Linked DNA regions of Homo sapiens: region 1 is linked to region 2. Evidence: fine-mapped expression QTL. A gene starts in region 2. The other region holds a variant in brackets. All regions are shown on one strand. Distances are between the middles of the regions.

Region 1 (9,688 bases), 130 kb after region 2:
AAACAAATCAGTAAGAAAAAAAAACAAACCATCCCATCAAAAAGCGGGTTAAGGACATGAATAGACAATTCTCAAAAGAAGATATACAAATGGCCAACAAACATATGAAAAAATGCTCAGCATCACTCATCATCAGAGAAATGCAAATCAAAACCACAGTGCAATACCACCTCACTCCTGCAAGAATGGCCATAATCAAAAAATCAAAAACCAGATATTGGTGTGGATGTGCTGAACAGGGAACACTTCTATACTGCTGGCGGGAATATAAACTAGTACAGCCACTATGGAAAACTGTGTGGAGATTCCTTAAAGAACTAAAAATAGAACTACCATTTGATCCAGCAATCCCACTACTGGGTATCTACCCAGAGGAAAAGAAGTAATTATTTGAAAAAGATACTTCCACACGCATGTTTATAGCAGCACAACTCACAATTGCAAATCGTGGAACCAAGCCAAATGACCATCAATCAACGAGTGGATAAAGAAACTGTGGTATATATATATATACACGATGGAATACTTCACAGCCATAAAAAGGAATGAATTAACAACATTTGCAGCGACCTGGATGAGATCGGAGACTATTATTCTAAGTGAAGTAACTCAGAAATGGAAAACCAAGTATCTTATGTTCTCATTGATGTGTGGGAGCTAAGCTGTGAGGACACAAAGGCATAAGAATGGTGCAACGGACTTTGGAGACTTGCAGGGGTGAGGGATGGAAGACTACAAATATGGTGCAGTGTATACTGCTTGGGTGATGGGTGCACCAAAATCTCACAGATCACCACTAAAGAACTTACTCATGTAACCAAATACCATCTGTCCCCCAATAACTTATGGAAAAATTAAAAAATTAAAAAATTAAAGGTACAGTAAAAATACAGTACAAAAGATAAAAAATGCTACACCTGTATAGTTCACTTACCATGAAAAGAACTTGCAGGACTAGAAGCTGCCCTGAGTGAGTGAATGTGAAGGCCTCGGACATTACTGTCCAACACTGTAGGCTTTGTAAATAGCGTACACTTAGGCTACAGTAAATTTTTAAAAAAATTCTTTCTCCAATATTAAATTAACCTTCGCTTACCGTAACATTTTTACTTCACAAACTTTAAAAACTTTTTAAACTTTTTTATTCTTTTGTAATAACACTTAGCTTAAAACACAAACCCACTGTACAGCTGTACAAAAATATTTTATTTCTTTATATCCTTATTCTATAAGCTTTTCTCTATTTTTAAATTTTTTATTTTAGTTTTTACTTTTTAAAACTTTTTTGTTAAAAACTAAAGCACAAACAGACACATTAGCCTAGGCCTACACAGGGTCAGGATGATCCATATCATTGTCCTCCCCCTCCACTCCTGTTCCACTGGAAGGTCTTCAGGGACAGTAACAATCACAGAGCTGTCATCTCGTAGGATAACAACGTCTTATTCTGGAATACTCTCTAAAGGACCTATGTGAGGCTGTTTTACAATTAGCTTTTTTTTTTAATAAGTAGAAGTACACTCTAAAATGATGCTACAATGTATAGTATGGTAAACACATAAACCAGTAACTTGGTCATTTTATCACTATCAAGTATTATGATGTAATATACATAATTGTATGTGCTATACTTTTACATAACTGGCAGTGAAGTAGGTTTGTTTACACCAGTGTCACCACAAACATGGGAGTAATGCATTGCACTATGACATTTGTTATGACAGCTACAATATCACTAGGAAATAGAAAATTTTCAGCTCCATTATAATCTTATGGGACCACCATCGTATATGTGGTCTGTCATTGACCAAAACGTCATTATGCAGCACATGACCGTACATTGACTGAGACACGGATTCATGGATTCCATATTTGTGAATTTGCCTGCTCCCTAAAATGTATTTCTAACCTCAGAATCAATACACATGCCACTTCTGCAGTGTTTGTGCACATCCATAGAGTAGCAAGACATTTGAAATACTGACATGATTACTCTGCCTTTCTGTTTCAGCTCTCATGATGTAAACGAGTGTCCTTTTCATTGTATCATGGGTTTTGTGCGTGCTTTGTGTTGGTAATTTTGCTATTTAAAATGGCCCGCAAGTGTAGCTGCTGAAGTTTTGTCTAGTGCAGGGGTCTCCAACTCCTGGGCCTGGTACTGTTCTGTGGACTTTTAGGAACTGGGCCCCATAGCAGGAGGTTAGCAGTGTGTGAGCAAAGCTTCATCTGTATTTACAGCTGCTCCCCATTGCTTGCATTACTGCCTGAGTTCTGCCTCCTATCAGATCACTGGTGGTATTAGATTCTCATAGAAGCACAAACCCTACTGTGAACTGTGCGTGTAAGGGGTCTAGGTTGCACACTCCTTACGAGAATCTAATGCCTGATGATCCGTGACTGTCTCCCATCATCCCCAGAAGGGACTGTCTAGTTGCAGGCAAACAAGCTCAGGGCTTCCCCTGATTCTACATTACCATGAGTTGTATAATTATTTCATTATATATTACAATGTAATAATAGAAATAAAGTACACAATAAATGTAATGGGCTTGCATCATCCTGAAACTATCCCCACTCAAGTCCATGAAAAAATAGTCTTCCATGAAACCAGTCCCTGGTGCCAAACACTGCTGGCCTAGTGTTCCTAAGTGCAAGAAGGCTGTGATATGTTATAGAGAAATACATGTGTCAGATAAGCTTTTGCTCAGTTAGGAATGATAGTGCTGTTGGCCTTGAGTTCAGTGTCAATGAATCAACAATGTTAAATAAAGTGTCTTCAAACAGTGATACACGTCAAACAAGGTTATGTATTGACCACTGGAGGAAAATACTGTAACCAGAGGCTTGCAGGTGCCTGTATTTCCATTAGGAGCAATGACTCAGTATTCACTAATTTAGTGTTACAGCGACTTTACAGACCATAACTACCATGAATAAGAAGCAGCAGCTATATATGACTTTAAGAATTATTCAGTGTGATTCTGATGTAAGTTTCCACATGTTCTCCTGAAACAGCCTTAACCAACCCCAGGCCAGATTCACTCAGTGCCCCACTGCCTCATCTCCCTCCTTTACATCCTCCTGCCCCAGAAGCAAGAAAGCGATTGTTGCCCACCTGAGGAAAAAACTGTTTTTATACTCGCAACACCTGTGACACCTAATGCGGGAGGTTTTTTTGTTTTGTTTTGTTTTTTTTCCACACCAATCACCAACACTGTGACTCTCCAGACATCAACTAGGTGTCCAGTAATTCAACTCAATTCCGAAACTAACCACCAGGAGTTAGATCACACCCCACTAGTGAAGGGCTCAGTCCCACACACAAGCCCCCCACTTCAGATGCCAGTAGTAAATCTGGACCTCCAAACTTCTGGCCAACTGGCTACAAATAAGGGGTCCCCACGACCCCATGCTTGGATTTAATATTTTGCTCGACTGCCTCACAGAATCCAGGAAAACAGTCTACTCGTTTATTATAAAAGACACGACTCAGGAACAGCGTATGGAAGAGAGGCTGTATTTGTCCGTTTTTACGCTGCTGATAAAGACACACCCGAGATGGGAAAGAAAAGGAGATTTAATTTGACTTACAGTTCCACATGGCTGGGGAGGCCTCAGAATCATGGCAGGAGGCGAAAGGCACTTCTCACGTGGCGGAGGCAAAAGAAAATGAGAATGAAGCAAAAGCGGAAGCCCCTGATAAAACCATCAGATCTCGTGAGACTTATTCACTATCACGAGAATAGCACGCACGAGAAAGACTGACCCCATGATTCAATTACCTCCCCCTGGGCCCCTCCCACAATTCATGGGAATTCTGGGAGATACAATTTAAGTTGAGATTTTGGTGGGGAAACAGCCAAACCGTATCAGACGCCCAGGACAATGTATGGGGAAGGGGCAGAGAGCTTCCATGCCCTCTCCAGGAGCACCACCCTCTAGGCACCTCCACGTGTTCACCAGTCCAGAAGCTCTCCAAACCCCATTATTTAGGGGTTTTTATGGAGGTTTTATTACATAAACACAATTGATTAAATCATTGGCCATTGGTGATTAACTCAATCCCCAGCCTCTCTCCCCTTCCTTAGGTTTGGGGCGGGTGATGGGGCTGAATTTGATTCCTCTGGCAACCAGTCCCCAACTTGTTAGGAACGACAAAAGAAGCTCCTCCCACTCCCATCACTCAGGGAGCTCCTAGGGGTTCTTAGACGCTCTTGTACCAGGAACCAGGGGCAGAAATCAAATATATAGTTCTTAATTTCTTATAACACCCCTCCCAGAAATTCTATCTTGCGTCACTATTGGGAGGGTCAGTGTGGCCTGCTTTGTGAGCGGTTTTTTTTCTTTTATTGGTTTGGTACGCCGGGTGCGGTGGCTCACGCCTGTAATCCCAGCACTTTGGGAGGCCAAGGCAGGTGGATCACGAGGTCAGGAGTTCGAGACCAGCCTGGCCAATATGGTGAAAACCAGTCTCTACTAAAAATACAAAAATTAGCATGCGCGCCTATAGTCCCAGCTACTCGGGAGGATGAGGCGGAAGAATCACTTGAACCCGGGAGGTGGAGGTTGCAGTGAGCCGAAATCGGGCCACTGCACTCCAGCCTGGGTGACAGAGTGAGATGCCATCTCAAAAAATAAAAATTAATAAATAAGTAAATAAGAAAGCAAGAAAATTTGCTGTTGCATTGTGGGGATATCCTCTGATGGCTGTCCTTGCATGGTGCCATATTGGTACTGCATGTGCTCATATGCGTATATCCTGTATGTATTTCATATGTTAAGAGATAAAGGGTGCCTCTGTTTCTTCCAAAAACTTCCTGGCTATGGATTAACAGAACTACGTGATCAAAGGGAATCCAAGATTGAAGGGTTAGAGGAAGTGAAAGGAAATTTAATTGAGAAAGGACAGGGCATCCTTAGTGAAGAATTGGGATCCAAAGTCAGAAGTAAGCTCTCCTGGTGATGGAGGAAGCAGAAGCAGTCTGTTGCCTGAGCTCTCTGTTATGTAACTTCAAGGATTCTCACACTCACTCGCACACCCCAGAGTCAGGAGGTGGGGCGTGGGAAAGTACATGGTAGAGGTCACCCCTCTGTAACTTGCAGCAGGGGCTGGGGACACAAAGGCCCTTGAGAAAGCAGCTGATTTCCTCCCCAGCACAGGCCGGTCACCACAGGGAAGATTCCAGAAGAGGAAATTTGCTCAGCTCATAACAAAGTTTATTAGCTTAGCAGATCTGTGTGTCAAACGAGA[A/G]TCCGTTTCTAAAGACTCCATTCATCAAATTGGCTCAAGCTTAGTCATTTGTGAAAAAACTGCCAAAGACCCCACAAAGACAGCATACAGAAAAAACTTGCAGCCCAAGGTTTGGGAGGATTTGAAATATATAAACACAAGAATCAGAGATAAATACCAACTACCTAAGATTATGAGCTGATTTCCTCAAGGGTGGATAGTTAGATATAGAAGGAAACTGTAATTGCTCCATGGGTTTTTCCTGCCCACTGTCCAGACAAAACCAATTCATTGCAACCGTGACACTGCAATAAGGAAGTTTAATTGACACAAGACCAGCCATGCCATGTGGGAGATGAAGTTATTACCCAAATCAATCTCCCTGAGAATTCAGAGGCTAGGGTTTTTTAAGAATAGTTTGGTGGGCGGGGGGCTGAGGGAATGGGTACTGCTTGATTGGATGCAATCACAGCGGTGTGGAAAGTGGTCCTTGTACAGAGTCCCTTCTGGGTAGGAGCCACAGGAGCAGAGTCCTGGGTCCGGGTGGGCCATCTGGTAGTTAGAAATGCAAAAATCTGAAAGGACATCTCAAAAGGCCAATCTTGTTAGGTTCCACAATAGCGATGTTATCTACAGGAGTAATCGGAGAATTTGCAAATCTTGTGACCTCTGGAATAATGGCCGGTAATGGTTCATTACCTTGTTTATAGGTAATAGTTTATTCTGCCTACATCTTAGCAGAATTCAGCCTCCTCTCATCCTCCTAACCTGGTAGTCTTTCATTAGTTTTAGAAAGATGGTTTACTTTTGGGGAAGGGCTGTTATCATTTAAATGATAAACTAAATTTCTCCCAAAGTTAGCTAGACCCAAGCCTAGGAATGGCCAAGGACAGTCTGGAAGTTAAAGGCAAGATGGAGATTGGTTAGATCAGATCTCTTTTACTGTCATAATTTTCACATTTTTAAAATTTTTGCAAAAGTGGTTTCAAAACTGTCCCAAATCTTGTTAGGCATGAGGGACAGGAGGGAACAGGAACAACTGAGATACCTTCTAGGCAGTTAATGCCAGAAGATGTCTCAAGACTGGGTTGGGTCTAGGTCAATTATTTGCGAAAGTGTGGGTGCAAACCATGTTCTATCTAGGGACTGCCAAAACTCAAAACTGGGAAGATGAAATTCTGCTACAGAGAATTCAAATGTGAGGCTAGAAATAAGAGACAAAGTCAAGATGAGGAAAGACAGTACACCACAGCAGTGCCTGCACTTGGCTCAACACCAAGGGGCACAATTCACACTGCAGTCTGTACGAATGGTGCCCAGTAGAGCTGGGCTGTGTGTACCCTGCACCATTGCTTTGTAGCTGTGGATAGTGAGATAAATAAACCAAGAAATGAGAGAGCCCTTGAATCAAAATGATCCAAGATAATTGCTGAGGATAAGGCTTGAGCTTCCTCGTTTTTATCAGCTCTCCATTTTCAAAGCACAAATGGCCTGAAATACAATGAAGATGCAGTAGAAAAAGCAACAGTCTAGAAATTAAGAGACGGGAGGTCAAATCACCCTCTGAGAAGTTGGTCATTTATTCAGTATTCTTGGCGTCTGGTTTATCTCTAAAGTGGAGACAATGAGAAGTGGTCTGCTTCTCTTCCTCTCGGGGTTGAACCAAGTTTGATCAAGGATATAAGCAAACACTGAAAATGAATGCTTTGCAAATGTCAGGGTTACACATGACGCAGTGGTCATGGTTTTAGCAGGGTGCTGAGACCTATCAATGGCCTACAAGACCCTGCAGTATCTGTCTCCTCTTGCTAGCCTCATCCACTCCACTCACACTGGCCCCTTTGCATTCCTCCAGTACCTGTCCCCAAGGGCCTTGTGAGTGGCTCTTCTCTCTGCTTGGCACACTGTCCTGCAGAACATCAGCTTGGCTTGCTACCTTCCCTCCTTTGGGTTTTATTCAAACATCAAGTTCTCAGTGAAGATTTCCCTGACAACACACTATTTAAAATGCTCACCTCCTAGCATTTTCTAAACCCTTCCCTATTTATTTTTTTTTTATCCCAAACACATCACTGTCTAATGCACAATTTAATTTACTTTTTCCTATGTTTATGTTTTGTCCTCCCCCATCAGAATGTAAGCTCCTGGAGGGCAGTGATTATAATGTTTTGGATCCTAAGCCAAAAATAAAGTCTAGAAAATTGGTAGGCACTCAAAAAAATATCAGATGTATGAAAGGGAAAAAGCTGTTCAAAGACACAAGCTCATCTCCTTACCAGGATGCCTTTTGCACTTCGGTTGAAATGGCTCCACCAAATAAAATGTCTGTTTCAGCACTTTGCTATCAATCTTGATTTTTGCTCCAATTCCTTTTGAGACTCCAGGACTGAAGTTTTAATTCCCCTTGCTTGTTGCCCAGCAAACAGCATTGAGAAATGAAAGGTCAATTTGGAGTTGACAATTTGCCAATTTGCCATATTTGCTGACCTACTAGTGAAATGAGCCATATTTCAGGGAAGGCTGTGGGTGAAGTGAGATGGGTTGTAAGAGCCCCACAGGGGAAAGAAAATGTGGAGAGCCCCATGCCAGACAACGGAATGTTTAACAGGCATTCAAAAAATACATGTAGCTTATTGCAAAAGAAAAAACAAGCTCTCTCTTGAGCTTTCTTTGTTGTTGTTTAAACAAAATATATCCTCTGAACTCAGTAACTTGGAGAAATCTGCTATTGCTGCAGAACTGGAAGCATATAGAGTTCTGCCAACAAGAAATCTATTCCCCTTTGGGGGTTATATTCTTATCTTGAGTTATTTTCTCTTGGCCTAGAATGTGCCACTGAATTATTCTCAAATGGCTTGCTTCTGGGTCAGTTCTTTATGCAAGGACACAGTTACCTCACTGTGATCTGGTCAAAGTCAGTCTCTGACCTGCTGGGAATAGAGAGGGAATGGAAAAGAGGCCACTTCTCTGCCATCTGAAAACAGGTGTTTGTAGATTATTTGCTCAAATTGGTTAATATAACGATGTTAGAACTTGAGTATATATATATATATATATATATATATATATATATATATATATTCCCAGGTTTAAGCGATTCTCCTGCCTCAGCCTCCCGAGTAGCTGGGATTACGGGCACGGCTAATTTTTGTATTTTTAGTAAAGATGGGGTTTCACCATGTTGGCTAGGCTGGTCTTGAACTGCTGACCTCAGGTGATCCGCCCACTTCGGCCTCCCAAATTGCTGGGATTATAGGTGTGAGCCACCGCACCCGGCCAGGACTTGAATATTTTCACCATATGAAATTATCTAGAGGATTCAGAATACACTCTGCAGAAGCAATACATCATCATACTAAAGACTAGGCTTTAGAATGAAATAGTCCTGCTTCAAATCTCATTCCTTCTACTAATGAGTTATATAATTTTGAGCAAATTACTTAAGCTGCCTGAGACTCAATATTTTCATCTCCAAAATGGGAATAATAATATATACATCAGTTTTTTCTGGGATGATAAAATGAGATAATGCATTTAAACAGCTCAACAAATTGTTCTTGTTTGTAATGATTATTCCAAAAACCCAGGAGCATAGTTTTGTTAACCAGGATGATTTACCCTTCATTGACAAGAGAACACAGAAGGCAGGTAGTGAAGACAACATAGTCCATCTGGTGAAACTTGGCCAAAGTGATCAGATGATGTTACTCTCCTGTCTAAATCATCCTGCAGCAAACCAACATGTCAGCATCAGAGCTGTTGGTCTGCAGATAGACGAGAGGCCAGTGGGAAGCTGGATCATACACCCTGGGACAAGGAAAATGATTCTTCCTCCCTCCCTTCCCCTTTCTGCCCTCCTTCCTTCCTTCCTGATACATCTTTCTAATTCTGTCATTCATGGCTGTCTTTTCCACACAGTGCCTATTGTGTGTCTACACTGGATGTTCTCAGGACTTGTATGGTCTAGACCCAGTTTGGCTCACTCACTAATTGAGTTGGACAAATCACTTTTACCACAGAGTTGAACGGTTAAGAGCATAAACTCAGAATTAGTCTATCTGGATTCTAAAAGCCTGCTCTACCACTTACTAGCTGTGTGACCTTCAGTGAGTTGCTTAAAACTCTCTGTGCCTCTGTTTATCCATCTGTGAAAAGGAGATTTACAACAGTGTCTATTTCACAAGGTTGGTGTGAGAATTCGATGAGTTACTAATGTGGACCACTTTAAACTGTACCTAGCACAAAAGCCTAATATCTCCTCATTATTCTAATAGATTTCTATTACTATCTGTAAAATAAGGGGATTGTGCCATCTCTGAAGTTCCTACTATGATAGAACTAACACTTTGTGAGTCATCTGGGATCCTCCCTGCAGAGACTGAGTCTCTCGCTACCTGCCTGCTCCCTTTCCCCACCCATTCAACTTCATTCATCTTTCAAGTTTCACAGCTTCCCTCC
Region 2 (9,688 bases):
AAACTACTTTAAAGTTCATATGGAACCAAAAAAGAGACCGCATCGCCAAGTCAATCCTAAGCCAAAAGAACAAAGCTGGAGGCATCACGCTACCTGACTTCAAACTATACTACAAGGCTACAGTCACCAAAACAGCATGGTAGTGGTACCAAAACAGAGATATAGATCAATGGAACAGAACAGAGGCCTCAGAAATAATGTCCTATATCTACAACTATCTGATCTTTGACAAACCTGACAAAAACAAGAAATGGGGAAAGTATTCCCTATTTAATAAATGGTGCTGGGAAAACTGGCTAGCCATATGTAAAAAGCTGAAACTGGATCCCTTCCTTACACCTTATACAAAAATTAATTTAAGATGGATTAAAGACTTAAATGTTAGATCTAACTGCATAAAAACCCTAGAAGAAAACCTAGGCAATACCATTCAGGACATAGGCATGGTCAAGGACTTCATGACTAAAACACCAAAAGCAATGGCAACAGAAGCCAAAATTGACAAATGGTATCTAATTAAACTAAAGAGCTTCTGCACAGCAAAAGAAACTACCATCAGAGTGAACAGGCAACCTACAGAATGGGAGAAAATTTTCGCAACCTACTCATCTGACAAAGGGCTAATATCCAGAATCTACAATGAACTCAAACAAATTTACAAGAAAAAAACAAACAAACCCATCAAAAAGTGGGCGAAGGATATGAACAGACACTTATCAAAAGAAGACATTTATGCAGCCAAAAGACACATGAAAAAATGCTCACTGGCCATCAGAGAAATGCAAATCAAAACCACAATGAGATACCATCTCACACCAGTTAGAATGGCGATCATTAAAAACTCAGGAAACAACAGGTGCTGGAGAGGATGTGGAGAGATAGGAACACTTTTACACTGTTGGTGGGACTGTAAACTAGTTCAACCATTGTGGAAGTCAGTGTGGTGATTCCTCAGGGATCTAGAACTAGAAATACCATTTGACCCAGCCGTCCCATTACTGGGTATATACCCGAAGGATTATAAATCATGCTGCTATAAAGACACATGCACATGTATGTTTATTGTGGCACTATTCACAATAGCAAAGACTTGGAACCAACCCAAATGTCCAACAACGATAGACTGGATTAAGAAAATGTGGCACATATACACCATGGAATACTATGCAGCCATAAAAAATGATGAGTTCATGTCCTTTGTAGGGACATGGATGAAACTGGAAAACATCATTCTCAGCAAACTATCACAAGGACAAAAAACCAAACACCACATGTTCTCACTCATAGGTGGGAATTGAACAATGCAAACACATGGACACAGGAAGGGGAACATCACACACTGGGGACTGTTGTGGGGTGGGGGGAGGGGGAGGGATAGCATTAGGAGATATACCTAATGTAAATGACAAGTTAATAGGTGCAGCACACCAACATGGCACAGGTATACATATGTAACAAACCTGCACGTTGTGCACATTTACCCTAAAACTCAAACTATAATAATAATAAAATGTTTTAAAAATTCAATAGATTTTACAATATTTTTAAATAATTATGACTTTGTATTTATACATTTTATTTGTATTAGTATGTTTTCTTACATTAATTATACTTTTTATAAGGACAAGATCCGACTCAGTACTGATGTTCTTTAGAGCCTACTTACACATTTCATTGTATTTTACTTTAGTAAGAAAGCCACAAAATAAAAATCTACATTAAAATATGTGTGTACAAAAAAAATCTGATTCCCAGCCTATTCCTGTTTGCAATTGCTGCAACATTAAAATATAGCACATCAAATACATATTTGCTTCTCGGCTAGGATCGCCAAAGAAAAAACATCTTATGATTTGTGGTTGCTGTTATTTAATCTTCCCTGAGCTTCATCTTCCCTCATCTGTAGAAGGGGAATATTATTGAGTTTGGAGTGCTTTTGTAATGATTAAACACAGTAGAAGATGAAAAGTGCCCAGTGCAATTAGCAGGCCTTCAATCAAAATAAGCAAGCTAGCTAGCTAGCTGGCTGGCCAGCTAAATAATGCTTCCCTACATCCAGAATTTCCAGTTGTTTCATTAGATATGCACATTCAAGTTTTTACTTAGGTAATTTTAAATGTGTCCCAGTGGCAAGTGTCCTGCTAAAGGGGTACTGTTAGCTTCTTCTCACCTAAAACTTAGTTTGTTACAAAGGAAATGCCAATTATGGAAAAAGTCAAGCCTTGAGCTACTGAAGGCCGAGTAACCTCGCCAAAGTTTGGATGAGTCGCTTCACTAATGCACATGCAATCCTGACCTAGAGATCATGTGAGTTTCTGCGTTAGAAGGCGGGCACCTGATGGCTCCCAGTGCAGCCAATCAGGAGAGAACGTTGCCGCCACACCCACCTGCTCCGCGCTGGCCCTGGGAGAGGAGCCAACCTGTCTTGCTTTTTTTTTTTTTTTAACCAGGCTAAGCTGCTGTAAATTAAGTCTTCCTGGAAATCTCAGCAACTCTATTGGACGTGCTAATGGCACAGTTCACTCCAAACTGGATTCATATTTAAATATTACATATCCTCCAACTCTTGAGTGCTTTAATTTTGTTATCTGGTTAGCCTGGGAAATCATTTTAAAAATACGCTATAAGTATCAGACTTTCCCTTAGCAATTATATAAAATCTCCTTGCAGTTTTCTGAAAGGCACAGAAGTGCAGTTTGATTTGGTTGTCTTATCAAAGGACATTTATGCATGAAAATAGGCTGCAGGAGTATTCTATATAAGATAGCAGGCAGTTCTGCACGTCTGTTTATATGCCATTCACACCATGAACACATCCAATGCAATTGTATTCATCTTCTGTCATTTTTTAAAATTAGAGTTTACTACATGATTTTTGGAGGACGGCCATATCATAGTTATTCATCCCTTGCATGGTCTGTTCTGCCACTTCTAAAGTTCTGCGAAGTTTAATTTTTGGCAGGTTTCAAGATTCTCTACATACTTTGTAGGTTAGAGTGAACGTGCACAGTATATTGTGTAATAATTGCAATACAAGACGGTGTGTTGTGTTGTGGCACGGAATGCATCAACTTAAAGATAGAATTGTTATGCAGAATAGAGACCTTTGAAATATTTGGGTATTATCAACTTTTATTTCATTTTTTGAGAAAAACTTAAAAAGTGAGCCCAGTTTTTTAAAAAGCATTTCATTGTTCTAACCTACAATTGTGCATTGTATGTTTGTGTGTGTGTGACGGAGGGTGGGATGAATAAAAGGGGACATTAAAAATATTCAGACCATAAATATAGTAGATTGGAGGTTCTGATTTGATGAGCCAGTTTCTCAGCCATAAACTGAGAGGGGGTTGGGGATACACTTCATTGTCCTTCCTGGCTAATGTAAATCCCTTATATTTAAAAAGATATTTAAAAGTATTCCAAGCATTTTGGCAGAAAAGCATAGTATCTAATGTTATTTTTTTCTTATTTTATGTGCATGCCTCTTATCCATTTAAAAATAGCTTTACTGACCTATAATTTACACACTATATAATTCTCCCATTGAAAGTGCATAATTCTGTTGCTTTTAGTATATTTACAGAGTTGTGCAGCATCAGCATAATGTAATCTAGAACATTGTCATCAACTACCCCCAAATCTCTATTCTTCCCTTCCCCTATTAATTACCCAGCCCCAGGCAAGCACTGATCTACTTTTGGTCTCTATGGATTTGTCTATTTGTGGACACTTTAAATGGAATCATACAATATGTGTCTTTTGCGACTATCTTCTTTCACTTATCATAACTCAATACGGCTTTAGATTATTTGACCTCGATGTTCTGCCTCTGAACATAAAATATTATCCTTGCATTCCTTGATGAGTTTGAGGATTGAGAATAATTTGCATGAGACAAAAATTAGAAACTAGTTAGAGCAAGTAGGCTTTTCTCCATCACATAAGCTGATCCATCTTGCCAATGTTAAAACACCAGATTGTACAAGCACAAGCTGGGACGCAATGTGTGTCCCTCTATCCCTACATTGACTTTGCGGGGGTGGGGATGGGGTGCGGGGTGAGTGAGGGAGGACTGCAAGTGACAAACAGGATTCGTCAAAAGAGAGGTGTATTAAAGTGCCGATCAAATGTAATTTAACAGCTAAACTTTCCCTCCTTGGAAAACAGGTGATTGTTGAGTATTTAACGTGAATCGATGTAAACCTGTGTTTGGTGCTTAGACAGGGGGCCCCCGGGTAGAGTGGAACCCCTTAAGCTAAGCGAACAGGAGCCTAACAAAGCAAATTTTTCCGTCTGCCCTTTCCCCCTCTTCTCGTTGGCAGGGTTGATCCTCATTACTGTTTGCTCAAACGTTTAGAAGTGAATTTAGGTCCCTCCCCCCAACTTATGATTTTATAGCCAATAGGTGATGAGGTTTATTTGCATATTTCCAGTCACATAAGCAGCCTTGGCGTGAAAACAGTGTCAGACTCGATTCCCCCTCTTCCTCCTCCTCAAGGGAAAGCTGCCCACTTCTAGCTGCCCTGCCATCCCCTTTAAAGGGCGACTTGCTCAGCGCCAAACCGCGGCTCCAGCCCTCTCCAGCCTCCGGCTCAGCCGGCTCATCAGTCGGTCCGCGCCTTGCAGCTCCTCCAGAGGGACGCGCCCCGAGATGGAGAGCAAAGCCCTGCTCGTGCTGACTCTGGCCGTGTGGCTCCAGAGTCTGACCGCCTCCCGCGGAGGGGTGGCCGCCGCCGACCGTAAGTTTTGCGCGCAAACTCCCCTCCACCTGCAGACCCGGCGGGTGGCCACTGCCACCCGAACTGAGGATGAGAAGAAGGAAGTTGGAAGGGGCGGTGGATGCGCCCAGGGACTCTCCCAGCCTGGGCTCTAGCCCCGAAACGGTCCCCGGAGTGGGATCCAGGAGGGGCCGGGAGGGAATCTCCTCCCGATCGTGAAGCGGCGGCGCCCAGTTCCCGCTTTTTCTCTCTGCCGGGTTCCCGCGCTATCCCTTCCACTCTGGCTGGGACCGCGTTCCCGGGCTCGCAGGCTCCGCCGGGGAGGTTCCGGGGTGTGGGGGCCGGGACGGCGGAGGCGGGGAGTAAGGGCCCGGCTGGCGGTGACCTGCAGTCACCTCTCTGCCGGAGGGGCCCTGGAATGAAAGGCGCGCGGGCCAAGGTGACCTCGCCTTGGTTGGCACTGCGGCTCAGCCCCCGCCCGGGGACTCGCGGGCCGACTGTGGCCCCTTCTGGGGAAGCCGGGGCGCGGGGAGGCGTTCCGGGCATCTCAGCCGCACGGGGTACGCTCGCCCTCGGCGGGGCCCCTCGCTCCGCTGTGGGAGTGGCAGTGGGTGTCGGGGTGGAGAAAGTACGCGTGGCGCGGAGTCCTGGGGACGCGGCGTCCCACCCGCTCTGGGGAGCCCCGGACTCTCTCCAGCTTCCAGGCTCGCATGCCCCTCTTTTCTTAGTGCCCTGAGAACCCAGCGAGGGGCTGACCCTCCCGAAACCGTGGCGCAGCCACCAGCAATCTGTGGTCGCCGACTCGGGGGGTTGCCAGGTCTGCGTTTGGCCACCCTTTCTGTCCTGGGGGCTGAGGTCAGCTCCGGGCGCCCGGCCCCGCCGCGCGGCTGCGAGCACGTGGGGTTGACGGGCGCCGCGTGGAGGCAGCGAGCACAACGGTGGTCACCGCCGCCAGGGAACCGCCCGCTCGCTGGGGTCCAGGCGTTCGGGGCCAAATGAGAATGTCTCAGACCTGTCCGCAATGGAGGCAGCCTGCTTAATTCGAACCTCGATTCAGTAAACATGCAACAGCAGCATAGAGAGCAGCTGAAGCCATTCATAACACGGGACAACATTTCCTTTTTTCTTCCATGCTGGAATTGCAATTAGGGCGGTGTCGCTTGGATGTGCTCTCAGGCGGCACGTCCCCAGCGGTTCAAGTTATAATAGAGTCTCTCCATAGCTTTGATGGCCGCTAAACGTTTGTTTTATTTTGGCATTAATTTGTGAAACATTTTTGTTAGGTTAAAAAACAAAAAGTTGGCAGGGAGCAGTGGCTCACCCATGTAGTCCCAGCACTTCGGGAGGCCGAGGCCGGAAGACAGCTTGAGCCCAGAAGTTCGAAATCAGCCTGGGCAACATAGGGAGACACCGTCTCTATAAAAAAAAAATACAAAAATTAGCCGGGCGTGGTGGCCTGTGCCTGTGGTCCCAGATAGTCAGCAGGCTGAGAGATCACTTGAGCCAGGGAGTTTCAGTAGACTGCAGTGAGCTGTGATTGCCCCACTGCACTTCATCCTGGGTGACAGTGAGACCCTGTCTCATAAAATTAAAACAAAACAAAACAAACACTAAGTATAGATTCCATCAAAGCAAAATTGGATAAGAAAAAAAGTATCTTTTCTATTGGATCAGTTTGAAAACACTGGAGAGTTGATGAGAAAGTCTTCAACATCTTAGGTGGGGTATGTTTCGTATGTTTCCCTTCGTACTGCTTAATGCTGACAAGAAGATGGTAGGAGCCAACTCCAAATTCTTATTTCAGAAAGCACACCATAGAATAACGTCATTTTCATTGCAAAACAAGCACCGAAATATGTCATCACATTCAAGTTTTTCCTAGGCTCCCTTACAGGTTCAAGATCCTAAATTCTTGGGAGTCAGTGTCACCTCTCTGGGTTTAGGTTCCTCAACTCTGCAATGAGTTTGGATGAGGCCAATGTTCTCTGAGCCTGGTGTAACTCTTGCCTCTTTAAGTGGACACTTATGTGATTAATTAGTTTAATTGAGTTGTAGCCAACACATGCTTTTCCTAGCTGTAAATATATTAAGGAAGGATTATTTCCAAGTAGACTGGAAACGATGCCCTCCCATCCCCTCCACTTTCACTCTACTCACCCAATATATCATGCCTCTCCCATCACAGCAACTTTCTCCCTCTTTCTCCTCCAGATGCATTCATCTAGGAAGGTAAGAATTTCAGGGAGAGAAAGATGTCACCGTGGTAGAAAGACAGGGATCACCTCCTCTGGGCTCTTGAGTTTACTTATTCATTCTGGATTCTTTCTAACAAGAATATGAGGACAAGAGGCACTGTCCTCAGGCACTTCGTCCTGGGAGCCACCACCATCTCTGCATGGCCCCAATTAGGAAACGTGAAGAGCTAGGAGAGGGAGAGTATGGTCAGTGCTTAGCAGCTGAAGTTCCACTTGCCTGGCCATCGTGAATTTCCAGGCTGTCTTCTGAGTTGAACATGATGGCAAAGGAGAGCAAAATAGCAGATGTCACTGAAGGAGAGCTCAGCGAGGGAGTGATTGATTAATAGCTGTATTGAAAGGTGGGAGTCAGGTACGGGGGAAGAGCGGCGATGGAAAATTTTCGCTTTCTTTCAGCAGCTTATTTTTAACTCAGCTTTCTGTTCTTGCTTTATTATGGAGGAAAAATTGGGCCATAGAGTTTACTGCCTTATGCCAGATTGTTCAAGAAAATGCCTTGCAACTTACAATATTTTGCAGCTAGTTTCTTCCGTGACCACCACAAAGACTGCATTGACTTAAATATGAAGATGTTCCAGCCATCAAAATGATGGTTGGTGATGATTTTGGATCACAAAGTGTAAGGAAAGTATTCAAGACATGAGTATCATGATTTTTTAAGGTCTGGATGAAGAGACCATTTGGATTTACTAATAAGGTAAATTCCAACTTTTATGGCAATAAAAACAACAAAAACACTTATCAGTGTAAAGCTTTGGGATCATCTATCCATTAAATGAGTTTGTCACCACAGTGAACTAAATACCTTTTATCAACAGAGACTTTCTAACCTGGGAGTAAAATTCTTGTCACAGTGCTTTTGTCACATTCTGTCTTTGCAAAAGTTGAAGGCTCCAATAGTTTCTGAAGGACTAATAGGATAGGGTTCCAACTTACTCAGAGGCTAAGAGTTTGAAATTTACTCTGAACGATGTCTGTTCACTAGACTGCGTGACTGCAGTTTGCTGTCTTGTGGCCATTTTAAGATTGTCTGTGTGCACTGACACCATTTGCGTACTCAACAACAGGTATCTACTAGGAAGGAAGGAATGGATTATCTTAGGTGCTATATATATATGTAAGTTCTGCCGGAAGTGAGCCTATTAAACTTGTGCCAATTCATTCCTTTTGCTCTTCCCAGTCTGTGCTCTCAGAATGATCAAATGCTATCTAAGTAGTGTGGTGATTTTGACTGTTTGAATGAATAAACGAAAACGTCTCCCACCATTATTTGACAGTAGAATAGAACAAAGATGACCCAGTTGGCGTGGCCACACTGTGTCTAATCCAGCCACCTTGCTCACAGCACTCAACCCACTTTGGTGTGTGCGCTCATCTGTATTTTCGTAAATGTTGAAGTCTCTTTCTATGCAGTCAGGTAGGGGTAATACCATTCTGGCTTGGATTAATTTGAGTGTAGTACAAAGTTTAGAGAAGCTTTTAAGTAGCATGAAAAGTCAGATGCTTTCGGAGGGATGGTGGTGAATGTAGGTAAATGGATCTGCACTTAGAGATCCTCAACAGCCCTTCATTCAAGATACAGCTATCATGACATCAATAATGTACCTTTGAAAAAAAATTGGCTGCAGAATTAATTACGGTGAAAAACAGTATAGGAGTTAGCACTTACATTTTAACTAAAAAGAATAGCGTCCCCATGTTTATTCAGCCCTCCCTCCAATAAAACAATTGTTGGCAAAGTAATCATGGACTTTCATTGTGTTAGTTTGAGACAACTGGATGTTTCCATTTGCCATCCTCAGCAACAAGAAGAAAGTAGTCTCAGATTAACCAGGTAAGTATTTTGTATTTCACTTAAAAAATCTTGACTGAAATATGCCTATGTGATGACACTCAACCAAATTATTTCATTAACCAGTCCACAAGATCTCCTTAAATAATGATGGCTTATTCACACTTGATGGTCTCATTCAGTGGGGCAATTTTAATACACATCTCTGAACCTATTTTTTAACCCCTCTTTTTCAGTAGTGTGGAAGGTTAGCCCTAATATTGGAGAAAATTCAGGGTAAAATTCAGATGATTCATACAGGATTTATTTTTCCTATTCCATTAATAAAACAACTTTTATAAAAATAAAAAGTAGGCTGGCACAGTGGCTCACTCCTGTAATCCCAGCATTTTGGGAGGCCGAGGCGGGTGGATCATGAGGTCGGGAGTTCAAGACCAGCGTGGCCAGGATGGTGAAACCCCATCTCTACTAAAAATACAAAAATTAGCCAGGCGTGGTGGCAGGCACCTGTAATCCCGGCTACTCGGGAGGCTGAGGCAGAGAATGGCTTGAACCCAGGAGGCATAGGTTGCAGTGAGTCACGATCGTGCCACTGCACTCCAGCCTGGGTGACAGAGCAAGACTCCGTTTCAAAAAATAATAATAAAATAAAATGAAATAAAGTAAAGCTGCATGTTAGAGAAGTCAAGAGCATTACTTACGTTAGAATATCTGAACAGACCAATCAATTCAGTCTGATCATGATATTGATGTTTTTCTTCACCAAATCGACCACATCAGTAATTCACTTTGTTCTTCGATATCCTACAGACACTGCCTGAGTCGATAACTATGACTATCAGTCTCAGAGAGCAAATGAATTACTGAGGAAGCCCTGTAGGAGTGAGAGAAAAGGGGGGAGAGAGAGAGAAAGGGGTGGGGGG

Evidence for each region.
Region 1: its variant is fine-mapped to the expression of LPL in whole blood (TOPMed, PIP above 0.99).

The regions. Positions count from the first base shown.
Region 1 is chr8:20,069,075-20,078,762 of GRCh38, forward strand. No RefSeq gene overlaps it. Among named protein-coding and RNA genes, the nearest start is that of SLC18A1, 110 kb to the right of the region's middle. The variant A/G (reference allele first, on the strand shown) is at 5,252.
Region 2 is chr8:19,934,790-19,944,477 of GRCh38, forward strand. It overlaps LPL (lipoprotein lipase), which reads left to right and starts at 4,464. Exons shown (of 10, transcript NM_000237.3): 1 at 4,464-4,739. The coding sequence starts at 4,652.